2 separate regions of the Homo sapiens genome follow, and region 2 is linked to region 1. The links come from fine-mapping of genetic effects on gene expression. A gene starts in region 1. The other region holds a variant in brackets. All regions are shown on one strand. Distances are between the middles of the regions.

The links. PIP is the estimated chance that this variant, and not a neighbour inherited with it, causes the effect.
Region 2: its variant is fine-mapped to the expression of EVPL in sun-exposed skin (GTEx, PIP above 0.99).

The regions. Positions count from the first base shown.
Region 1 is chr17:76,024,243-76,029,753 of GRCh38, forward strand. It overlaps EVPL (envoplakin), which reads right to left and starts at 3,064. Exons shown (of 22, transcript NM_001988.4): 1 at 2,859-3,064. The coding sequence starts at 2,956. RefSeq lists an enhancer at 2,646-3,533.
Region 2 is chr17:75,988,938-75,993,937 of GRCh38, forward strand. It overlaps TEN1 (TEN1 subunit of CST complex), which reads left to right. Exons shown (of 4, transcript NM_001113324.3): 3 at 2,529-2,686. TEN1-CDK3 (TEN1-CDK3 readthrough (NMD candidate)) reads left to right here. Exons shown (of 10, transcript NR_037709.1): 3 at 2,529-2,686. Among named protein-coding and RNA genes, the nearest start is that of CDK3, 9.4 kb to the right of the region's middle. The variant GGGCTC/G (reference allele first, on the strand shown) is at 2,764.

The DNA of each region.
Region 1 (5,511 bases):
CTTTGGGGTCTCTCTCTGCAGAAGGCTCTGTGAGCTAGTCCTGGTTGGGGGTGTTAGCACTGCCCCGCCACATGAGGGGTCAAAAGGTGAGGGTCTCAGGTTTGTGTGGTGCTGGGGAGGGGGCAGGCGGCCTCGGTGTCCCAGCCTTAGCCAGCTGTGCTGGCAGTGAGTTCCCGACCCCACCTAGCTACCTGCCACTTCCCTCCCCGAGCCAGTGAATCACCGGCTCAGCCACTAGCACCTGAGCCAGCCTGGCTGGGCCCTGGGAGGGGTAGTTGGGCTGGCTGGGGCAGGGAGGCAGCAGCATGTCCCCCATCCCCACCTCCTCGCACTCCAGCCCTGTGTTCCCCTATACCTCCTCCACCCCAGGGAGCCTTGCCAGCATGCTGGCTTCAGTAGCCATCTAGAGGAGCCTCACACTGTCGGAGCCGGGGAGGTGGGGCAGGCGCAAGAGACTACTGGGCACCCTAACATTCTCCAGAGTTGAGGGTTCAAAGCCCAGATTGGGCTCTGACTTGCTCTGAGTCACATGGTCAGGGGTGGAGGGGAAACCTTGCTTCCACCCCAGGGCTTTTTCTGTGCATTCGCCCTGCAGCCTCCATAGAGCACCTGCTGTGTGCATGCACTCACTGTGCGGAGGTCACAAGGTCAAGCAGACCTAAAAGAGGGCAGATTGGTCCAAGCCTTATGAGCACAGTGCCTTATGGGGGATCATTATGCTGGGGCAGGAGAAGCCTTGAACTGGGTCAAAGGATGGGCCCCCCCAGGCAAAGGGACAGTGCTGGTGAAGGCACAGCAGTCTGGAAGAACTCTGTGGCCAAGACACCCTGGTTTCATCTTTCTCCATCAGAAAGATGATGGACTTGACCTTGGTCAAGTTACTCAACCTCTCTGTGCCTGAGGTTCCTCACTTGTAAAGCGGGATTTTAATAAAAATATCTATGCCTTAGGGCTATTGTGAGCATTAATTGAATTTATCCATCTGAAACGTCCAGTGCAGGCCTGGTGCAGGGTCGGCACCCAGCACGTGTTAGTTTTTATCCCATTAGAGGGCTAGTGCCTTGAAGGCAGGGGCTTGTTGGTTCTGTCTACAGTGACATCTCCAGTGCCTAGAACAGTCCTGGCATACAGTAAGTGCTCAGTAAGTTCATGTCAAACGAGTGGATCGCACGTGAGGGGAGAGCCAACAGGGCCCTGAGGACGGAGCTGCCCCAGGCCAGGAGCGCACTGCTGGGGAGCCTGCCTGGACAGTGGGAGCTGCAGGTGCTGGGCCCTGGGCGCCCCTCCTCAGGTCCCGCCTCCTGGGATGGCTGCTCCCACCGGGAGCTGCACACTCCACCCTGGGTGGGGCTCAGGTGCCCCAGGGAGGACAGGTCACTCAGCGAGAGTGTTAGCTGAGAGTCTTAACCACTGTCTTTCCCGTCCGCCCAGACACCCAGCCTCGGTGTCTGTTGGTGCCTTGATCCCTATCGGGGTAATGGGCACCCCCACTCCCACACCAGCCTTTCATCCCTGAGGTCATCTCGACACCCTGGACCCAGGCGGGCTGCTGCCTCCTCTGCAGACGAGCTGAAGCCAGTGAGTGGGAAGAACACCGCCCAATCCATCCACAGATTGCTGAGGCTGGGCTCCAGAGAGCCGGGTGGTCCAAGGGAGGCCCAGTGCCCCCTGCACCACACCCACTGGAAAAGGAAGCCCCAGCTCTATTTTGTTTTAACAGACAGGGTCTTGCTCTGTCACCCAGGCTAGAGGGCAGTGGAGTGATCACGGCTCACTGCAGCCTCGACTTCCCGGGCTCAAGTGATCCTCTCACCTCAGCCTCCCAAGTAGCTCTGACTACAGGCATGCGCCACTACATCCAGATAATTTTTGTATATTTTTTGTAGAGACGGGATTTCATCATGTTGCCCAGGCTGGTCTCGAACTCCCGGGCTCAAGTGATCTACCCGCCTCGGCCTCCCAAAGTTGTAGGATTGCAGGCGTGAGGTATTGCGCCAGGATTTTTTTTTTTTTTTTTTTTAAGACAGAGTCTCAGTCTGTCACCCAGGCGGGAGCGCAGGGGTGTGATCATGGCTCACTGCAGCCTCAAACTCCTGGGCTCAAGCAATAGGCACGAGCCACCATGCCTGGCTATTTTTTATTTTTATTTTTTTACAGAAACAAGATCTCCCTATGTTGTCCAGGCTGGTCTCGAGCTCCTGGGCTCAAGGAATCCTCCCGCATTGGCCTCCTGAAGTTCGGGGATTATAGGCGTGAGCCACGGCGCCCGGCCATGAACCCCTAACTCTTCAATACAACAAGGCCCTGGGTGAGAACTCTGGGGAGGGCTGTGGCTTAGGCAGGAGGCAGCACAGCCCCTGCATCCCTACCCCAGGGATCCCACCCCGTCCCCTCAGTCCTCATGCCCTGTACCCAGGCTCCAGGGGTCATCCCAGCCAAGTAGAGCCTTGGGGCAGAGCTGCAGTCAGGCAGCCAGGCTCTCCTGTCTCCCAGGCTCTCCTGTCTCCCAGGCTCTCCTGTCTCCCAGCCTCTGGCAGAGGAGGGCCTCCGTGCAGGCTCCTGTCCAGCACTTCTCCCGCGAAGCGGCCTCAATCCGTGGCCCTCAGGCCCCCTTAGAGGATGTAGGGAGCCCCAGGTCATCCCCTGCCTCCTGCCAGGGCTGAAGTTCGGCCTGGGCCTGCGGCTCCCAAGGCAGGGAGAGAGTCCATCCCTGGGCCCTTTGGCCTCAGGACACCAAATGCCAGCACGGGGCTGGTCCTGGGCTCTGGGCCGCCGCCGCCGCCAGGTGGCTCAAGGACCTGGGCCTGGCACCACCCCCACCCCAGTTCCCCGGCTCCCCATCCCCCAGTCCCACTTACCGGCTGTGCCTGCTGGGGGAGCCTTTGGGGGACCCCTTGGCGGGGGAGCCCTTGGGGGACCCCTTCCCCTGGGAGCCTTTGCTCAGCCCCTTGAACATGGTCGTAAAGGCAAGTGCTGGCTCAGGCTGGGCTTGGCTGGCGAAAGACGGCAGGAGGGCAGGTGGGAGGCAGCGGGCGTCCTCACTGGCTGGTCAGCTAAGTCTGGCGAGGTGGGGCGGCTGGGCACTGGGGAAGGGAGTTTCTGGGAGGCCCCTCCTTGCAGGTGAGGCAGCGGGCGGGCGGCCGGGTCCCAGGCCTGACGCGCATGCACCCACAACGGCCACACTCATGCCTCCTCCTGCACAACCAGTCTGGGAGGAAAGGGCACAGCCCTGAGGGCGGGGCCGAGCCTGCCCGACTCCCACAGAAGGTTTGGACTTGTTACACCCACATGCCTAGGGGAGCGCAGCGGCGATCACACCCAGATAGGGAAGGAGTTGGGCCAGGACAGACAGGGCTGGAGACAGACGTGCACATGCAGGTGCAGGCTCAGCGGAGAGGCCCCAGCCCCGGAGCTCAGGATTAATAAACACCTCCAGCCAGCTCAGAGGACCTGCTGCCAGGCAGGCCCCCACCCACAGCTCTCAATCCCCCAGGAGAGGAGGGGGTGTCCTGCCAGCCCAGGGCCTGACTCTCTGTTCTCCACTGACATGATGGGGCAGTCAGGGGACGTTCACTCCAGACAACTGGCACAAGGTCCATTTTTTTTTTTTTTAAGAGACAAAGTCTCGCTCTGTCACCCAGGCTGGAGTGCAATGGCATGATCTCGGCTCACTGCAACCTCTACCTCCCGGGTTCAAGCGATTCTCCTGCCTCAGCCTCCTGAGTAGCTGGGATTACAGGTGCCCGTCACCACGCCCAGAAAATTTTTGTATTTTTAGCAGAGAAGGGGCTTCACCATGTTGGCCAGGCTGGTCTCGAACTCCTGACCTCAAGTGATCCACCCGCCTCGGCCTCCCAAAATGCTGGGATCACAGGCATGAGCCACCACGCCTGGCCCCATTTTATAAAGTGTGCACAGTGCAGCAGCACCAGGGCTGGCTTCAGGCGCCAGTAAGCCTGGGCTCTGGCTGAGGCCCGGGAGCCTGATGCACTTGGCTTTTCCTACCTGCCTCTTCCCCCACCCAGAAATGGCCCCTGGTGGCTTTTATGAAGTCAGATTGAGTGGCAGACAGTGATGCCAGCTTATTGGTCTTTTCCTCACACTGGGTACCAGGGCTGCTGCCTTTTCCTTCTGTGGTGGCCCTGAGCGTCTTCAAGAAAGAGGCGATGGCACCCCCCTTTCCAGGCGCTCATTTCACTGGCCCAGCGTAACAGGCCCCTTCTGCGGGGTGGCGTCGCTTTCCAGGTCATTCCTGAAACCCCCGTGGTTTTAGTGGAAGGAGGGCTTGAGGGGGAGCCAGGGGATGGAACAGACTGACTGGGTGACATCACCTGGACATCCTGGCAGGCCTCGCTGAGGACAAAGCACAGCCTGGCAGGAGAGAAAGATCCCAGCAGACGGGGGAGACCAGGGACCGACGCCTGATACTGGCCTCAGGCCCCCATGGGATAGAAAAGTCCTGCGCCCTTTTTGGCTGAATTTCATGGGAAGTCCCTGAACTCGGCCGTGGAGAGGGGATGCAGGACACCCCCATTCCTAGAGGTGGAGGAGCTGACAGGGGCAGTAGGGGTGGGGAGGGCAGTGGCAGCCCCTGACAGCAATGAGGAAACAAAGAGGTCTCCAGTGTCCTTGGCTCCCAGCCCGTGTCTTGAGTGAGATGGCACCAGGGATGACTGGCCACTCAGCCTCTGCCCCAGCCTGCTCCCACTTTATTCCTGGTGACACTTGTCTTCTAGCCACTCATTGCACACCTGCAATCAGCTGTCTTCAGAAAGGAGCCGTTTGTGTGAATGACTACGGGGGCCAACGCCAGCCTCACCCCTGGCCTCCCTGACTCGCCTTTTTCTTTTCTTTCTTTTTTTTTTGAGACTGAGTCTCGCTCTGTCTCCCAGGCTGGAGTGCAGTGGCGCCATCTCGGCTCACTGCAACCCCTGCCTCCCAGGTTCAAGTGATTCTCCTGTCTCAGCCTCCCGAGTAGCTGGGATTACAGGCGCCCGCCACCACGCGCGACTAATTTTTTGTATTTTTAGTAGAGACAGGGTTTCACCACGTTGGCCAGGCTGGTCTCGAACTCCTGACCTCAGGTGATTCGCCCACCTCAGCCTCCCAAAGTGCTGGGATTACAGGCATCAGCCACTGAGCCCGCCTGCTTCACCTTTGAGCTTGGCCCCTCCCTGGGAGGTGGCAGTCATTGGAAGTGGGGCCCTGGGGAGAGGTGTCCAGACTCCAGACAGAGAGCAGCCGGGTGAGGCCCCTGAGCTGTGCAGGGGGAGGTGCCCTGGGCGGAGGGCAGCGAGTCTGAGGTCTGGAACACTCGAGCTTCCTCCCCTCTTCAGAAGCCCTCCAGGAAGGAAATGAGCACTGCAGGGGGCCCTCACACGCCCCGGAGATTAAGGGCTAACTGATTTACTGCAAGAAAAACAAGAGCTGACTTCCTGGCGTGATCTTCTCATGCTGGATCAAATCAGGCCCCGCTCCTCTGATAAGGGCTGCCAGGCGGCAGGCAGGAAC
Region 2 (5,000 bases), 36 kb before region 1:
TTTTTTTTATTTTTTAGTAGAAACGGTGTTTCACCATCTTGGCCAGGCTGGTCTCGAACTCCTGACCTTGTAATCCACCCGCCTCGGCCCCCCAAAGTGCTGGGATTACAGGCGTGAGCCACCACGCCCGGCCTACTTAGCCAATTCTTTATTGATTTTCTTTTCTTTTTTTCTTTTTTTGAGACAGAGCCTTGCTCTGTTGCCCAGGCTGGAGTGCAGTGGCGCGATCTCAGCTCACTGCAAGTTCTGCCTCCCAGGTTCACGCCATTCTCCTGCCTCAGCCTCCCAAGTAGCTGGGACTACAGGCACCTGCCACCACGCCCGGCTAATTTTTTTTTTTGTTTTTTTTTTGTTTTTGTAGAGATGGGGTTTCACCGTGTTAGCCAGGATGGTCTCGATCTCCTGACCTCGTGATCTGCCTGCCTAGGCCTCCCAAAGTGCTGGGATTACAGATGTGAGCCACCGCACCTGGCCTTTTTTGTTTTTTTAAATTGAGATGGAGTCTTGCTCTGTCGCCAGGCTGGAGTGCAGTGGCGTGAGCTTGGCTCACTGCAACCTCCAACTCCCTGGTTCAAGCGATTCTCCTGTCTCAGCCTCCCAAGTAGGTGGGATTACAGGCGTGCCCCACCACACCCAGCTAATTTTTGTATTTTTTTAAGTAGAGATGGGATTTCACCATGTTGGCCAGGATGGTCTCCATCTCTTGACCTTGTGATCTGTCTGCCTCAGCCTACCAAAGTGCTGGGATTACAGGCGTGAGCCATCGTGCCTGGCTTTATTGATTTTCAATAAAGACATCAAGATAATTCAGTAGGGAAAGCATAGTCCTTTCAACAAGTGGAACTACTGGATATTGACACTGTGTCGCCCAGGCTGAAGTGCAAGTGACATGATCATGGCTCACAACAGCCTTGACCCCTCAGCCTCCCAAGTAGCTGAGACCACAGGCGTGCACCACTGTACCTGGCTAATTAAAAAAAAAAAAAAATTATAGAGACGGCATCTCGCTGTATTGCCCAGGCTGGTCTCTAACACCTGGGCTCAAGCAATCCTCTTGCCTCAGCCTCCCAAAGTGCTGGGATTACAGATGTGAGCCACCATGCCCAACCTAGATTTTTTTTTTTTTGAGACGGAGTCTTGCTCTGTTGCCCAGACTGGAGTGCAGTGGTACGATCTCGGCTCACTGCAGCCTCTGCCTCTTGGGCTCCAGTGATCCTCCCGTCTTGGCCTCCCAAGTATCTGGGACCACAGCTGCGTGCCACCATGCCTGGCTAATTTTTTTTATATTTTTAGTAGAGACAGGGTTTCAACATGTTGCCCAGGTTGGTCTCAAACTCTTGGACTCAAGTGATCCATCTGCCTTGGCCTCCCAAAGTGCTGGGATTACCAGCATGAGCCACCACGCCCAGCTAGATATTCTTATGGTAGGGGAAAACATCTTGATCTTTACTTCACAACATACAAAAAAAAATTTACACTGTGTCATAGATTACAAGCTAAGACTGAAATGTCTCAAGTAAACAGCAGAATATCTTTACAACTTTGAGTAGGCAAAGATTTCTTTTTTTTTTTTCTATTTATAGCATTTGTAGCCCATATTGAAAAAAAAAAGATGGCCAGGCACAGTGGCTCATGAGTGTAATCCCAGCACTTTGGGAGGCTGAGGCAGGTGGATCACGTGAGCCCAGGAGTTCGAGACCAGTGTGGACAACATAGCAAAACCCTGTCTGTACAAAAAATTAAAATATTAGCCACGTGTGATGGCAAGTACCTATAGTCCCAGCTACTCAGGAGGCTGAGATGGGAGGATTGCTTGAGCAGCCTGGAAGGTCAAGGCTGCAGCCTGGGATACAGAAAAAAAAAAAAAAGAAAGGAAGAAAAAGATTTCTTAGACAAGACATAGAAAGCAAAAGTCATAAAAGAAAAAAATGATCAGGTGTGGTGGCTCATGCCTGTAATCCCAGTACTTTGGGAGGCTGAGGTGGGTGGATCCCTTGAGGTCAGGAGTTGGAGACCAGCCTGGACAATATGGTAAAACCCCTTCTCTACTAAAAATACAAAAATTAGCCAGGCCTGGTGGCAGGCACCTGTAATCCCAGCTACTCGGGAGGCTGAGGCACAAGAATTGCTTGAACCCAGGAGGCGGAGGTTGCAGTGAGCCGAGATTGCTCCATTGCACTCCAGCCTGGGCAACAAAGCGAGACTCCATCTCAAAAAAAAAAAAAAAAAAAGAAAAAAGAAAAAGAAAAAAATGAATAAACTGATCATCAACAAAATTAAAAGCTTCTGCTTATCAAAATATGCCATTAAGAAAATTGAAGGCAAGGAGATGAAAATTAAAAGGAATTCCTTCATATTCTACAGTGTAGACTGAAACATTTTTTTCTGGTTTGTTGCTGCAATTTGCATTTCTGTGATGAGACTGAGGCTGAACACTTTTCTATAGATTTCTTGGCCATGCAAACCTTTTGAGCGTGGTGGTGATTCTACGTATGGATGGAAATTATTGCATTTCTTCTGCCTTCCAGGTTGTGCCTCTATGACATGATTCAGTCCAGAGTAACACTGATGGCTCAGCACGGATCCGATCAGCACCAGGTTCTTGTCTGTACCAAGTTGGTGGAGCCCTTCCACGCCCAGGTGGGCTCCCTGTACATCGTCCTCGGGGAGCTCCAGCATCAGCAGGGTGAGCTGCAGCCTCAGATCCCCTTTCTCATCCTGGGGCCTGAGCTGGGGCAGTCTTCGGGGCAGTCAGTGAGAAAT[GGGCTC/G]GTGACCCAACAGCAATGTCTCATCAGGGTTAATGTTTCTTCCAAATTAGCCCACAAGTTCAACACTCTTGAGGATTCAACTCAGAGTGGACTGGCCTCATGGTGCCAACTCAAAGACAGGGTGGCTGGTCAGGAGTTCGAGACCAGCCTAGCCAACATGGCGAAACCCCATCCCTACTAAAAGTACAAAACTTAGCTGGGCGTGGTGGCATGTGCCTGTAGTCCCAGCTACTCAGGAGACTGAGGCAGGAGAATCACTTGCACCAGGGAGGTACAGGTTGCAGTGAGCCAAGATCGTTCCACTGCACTCCAGCCTAGATGACAGAGTGAGACTCCGTCTCAAAAAAAAAAAAAAAAAAAAAAGACAGGTACAGTGAAGAGACAATCCCCCATGGGGAAGTGAGAACGAGGAGAGAGAAACCACTAATTTCTCAAGGCCTACAACACACCAGGCCTGATGTGAGGCAGCTTGCTTAGATCTTTTTGAATTTGCCTGTCAGCCTTTAATCTGAGTCTTAAAAATTTTTTTTTTTTAGTTTTTTTGAGACAAGATCTCTCTCTGTTACCCAGGCTGGAGTGCAGTGGTATGATCACAGCTCACTGCAACCTCCATCTCCTGGGCTCATGAGGCTCCCACCTCAGCCTCCTGAGTAGCTGGGACCACAGGCGTGCACCACCACACCTGGCTAATTTTAAAATTTTCTGTGGAGACAAGGTGTCATTATTTTGGGATGAGGGATCTGCGTGCCTTGGCCTCCCAAAATGCTGGGATTACAGGTGTGCAGCACCAAACTCAGCCTTACTTCTGATTCCTTTTTATTTTTTGAGACGGAGTCTTGCTCTGTCGCCCAGGCTGGAGTGCAGTGGCGCGATCTCGGCTCACTGCAAGCTCCGCCTCCCGGGTTCACGCCATTCTCCTGCCTCAGCCTCCCAAGTAGCTGGGACTATGGGCGCCCGCCACCACGCCTGGCTAATTTTTTGTATTTTTAGTAGAGACGGGGTTTCACCGTATTAGCCAGGATGGTCTTGATCTCCTGACCTTGTGATCCACCCGCCTCGGCCTCCCAAAGTGCTGGGATTACAGGCGTGAGCCACCGTTTTTTTTTTTTTTTTTAGACAGTGCCTTGCTCTGTCACCAGGCTGGAGTGCAGTGGCGCGATCTCAGCCCACTGCAACCTCCAGCTCCCTGGATCAAGCGATTCTCCTGTCTCAGCCTCCCGAGTAGCCCTGCCTGCTTCTGATTCTTACTGCTGGTTTTTTTTTTTTTTTGTCTCGAGACAGAGTCTTGGTCTGCTGTCCAGGCTGAGTGCAGTGGCGCGATCTTGGCACCAGGCTCTATCCTGCCATTTCTGTATGGATTGCCTGTAGTGGAAACCAAATGGTTGATGAAGGAAAGTTATTTCTTTTTTTTTTTTTTTTGAGACGGAGTGTCGCTCTCGCCAGGCTGGAGTGTAGTGGCATGATCTCAGCTCACTGCAACCTCCGCCTCCCGGGTTCAAGCGATTCTCCTGCCTCAGCCTTCCGAGTAGCTGGGACTACAGGCATGCGCCACCACGCCTGGCTAATTTTTGTATTTTTAGTAGAGATGGGGGTTTCACCATGTTGGCCAGGATGGTCTCGATCTCTTGACCTTGTGATCTGCCCGCCTCGGCCTCCCAAAGTGTTGGGATTACAAGCGTGAGCTACCGCGCCTGGCCTGGAAAGTTCTTTAGAGAAGAGTCACAGCGAATGAACGCAGGAGAAATCCGTAAATTCAAAGTCATCACTTTAAAAGCCCTGACAAAATAAAAAATCCAGGCAACAGTCCTCGCTAGTGGCCAAAATCATTAGGAAACATCTTGATGAGATCATTGTGATGGAGGGACCCGCCAGCAGTGCCTAGGCTGGCCTGATCAATGTCGACGTGATAAAAATCAGAAGGGCAAACATCAGGTACCTCCGATGTGAGTCATGAGGAAGACACACATAGCAACACCTCTGTTGGGTTCTTGCCAAAAAAATTGAACCTGGGCTGGGCGCCGTGGCTCACGCCTGTAATCCCAGCACTTTGGGAGGCCGAGGCGGGCGGATCTCGAGGTCAGGAGATTGAGACCATCCTGGCTAACATGGCGAAACCCCGTCTCTACTAAAAATACAAAAAGTTAGCCGGGCGTGGTGGCACACGCCTGTAGTCCCAGCTACTCAGGAGGCTGAGGCAGGAGAATCGCTTGAACCCGGGAGGCGGAGGAGGTT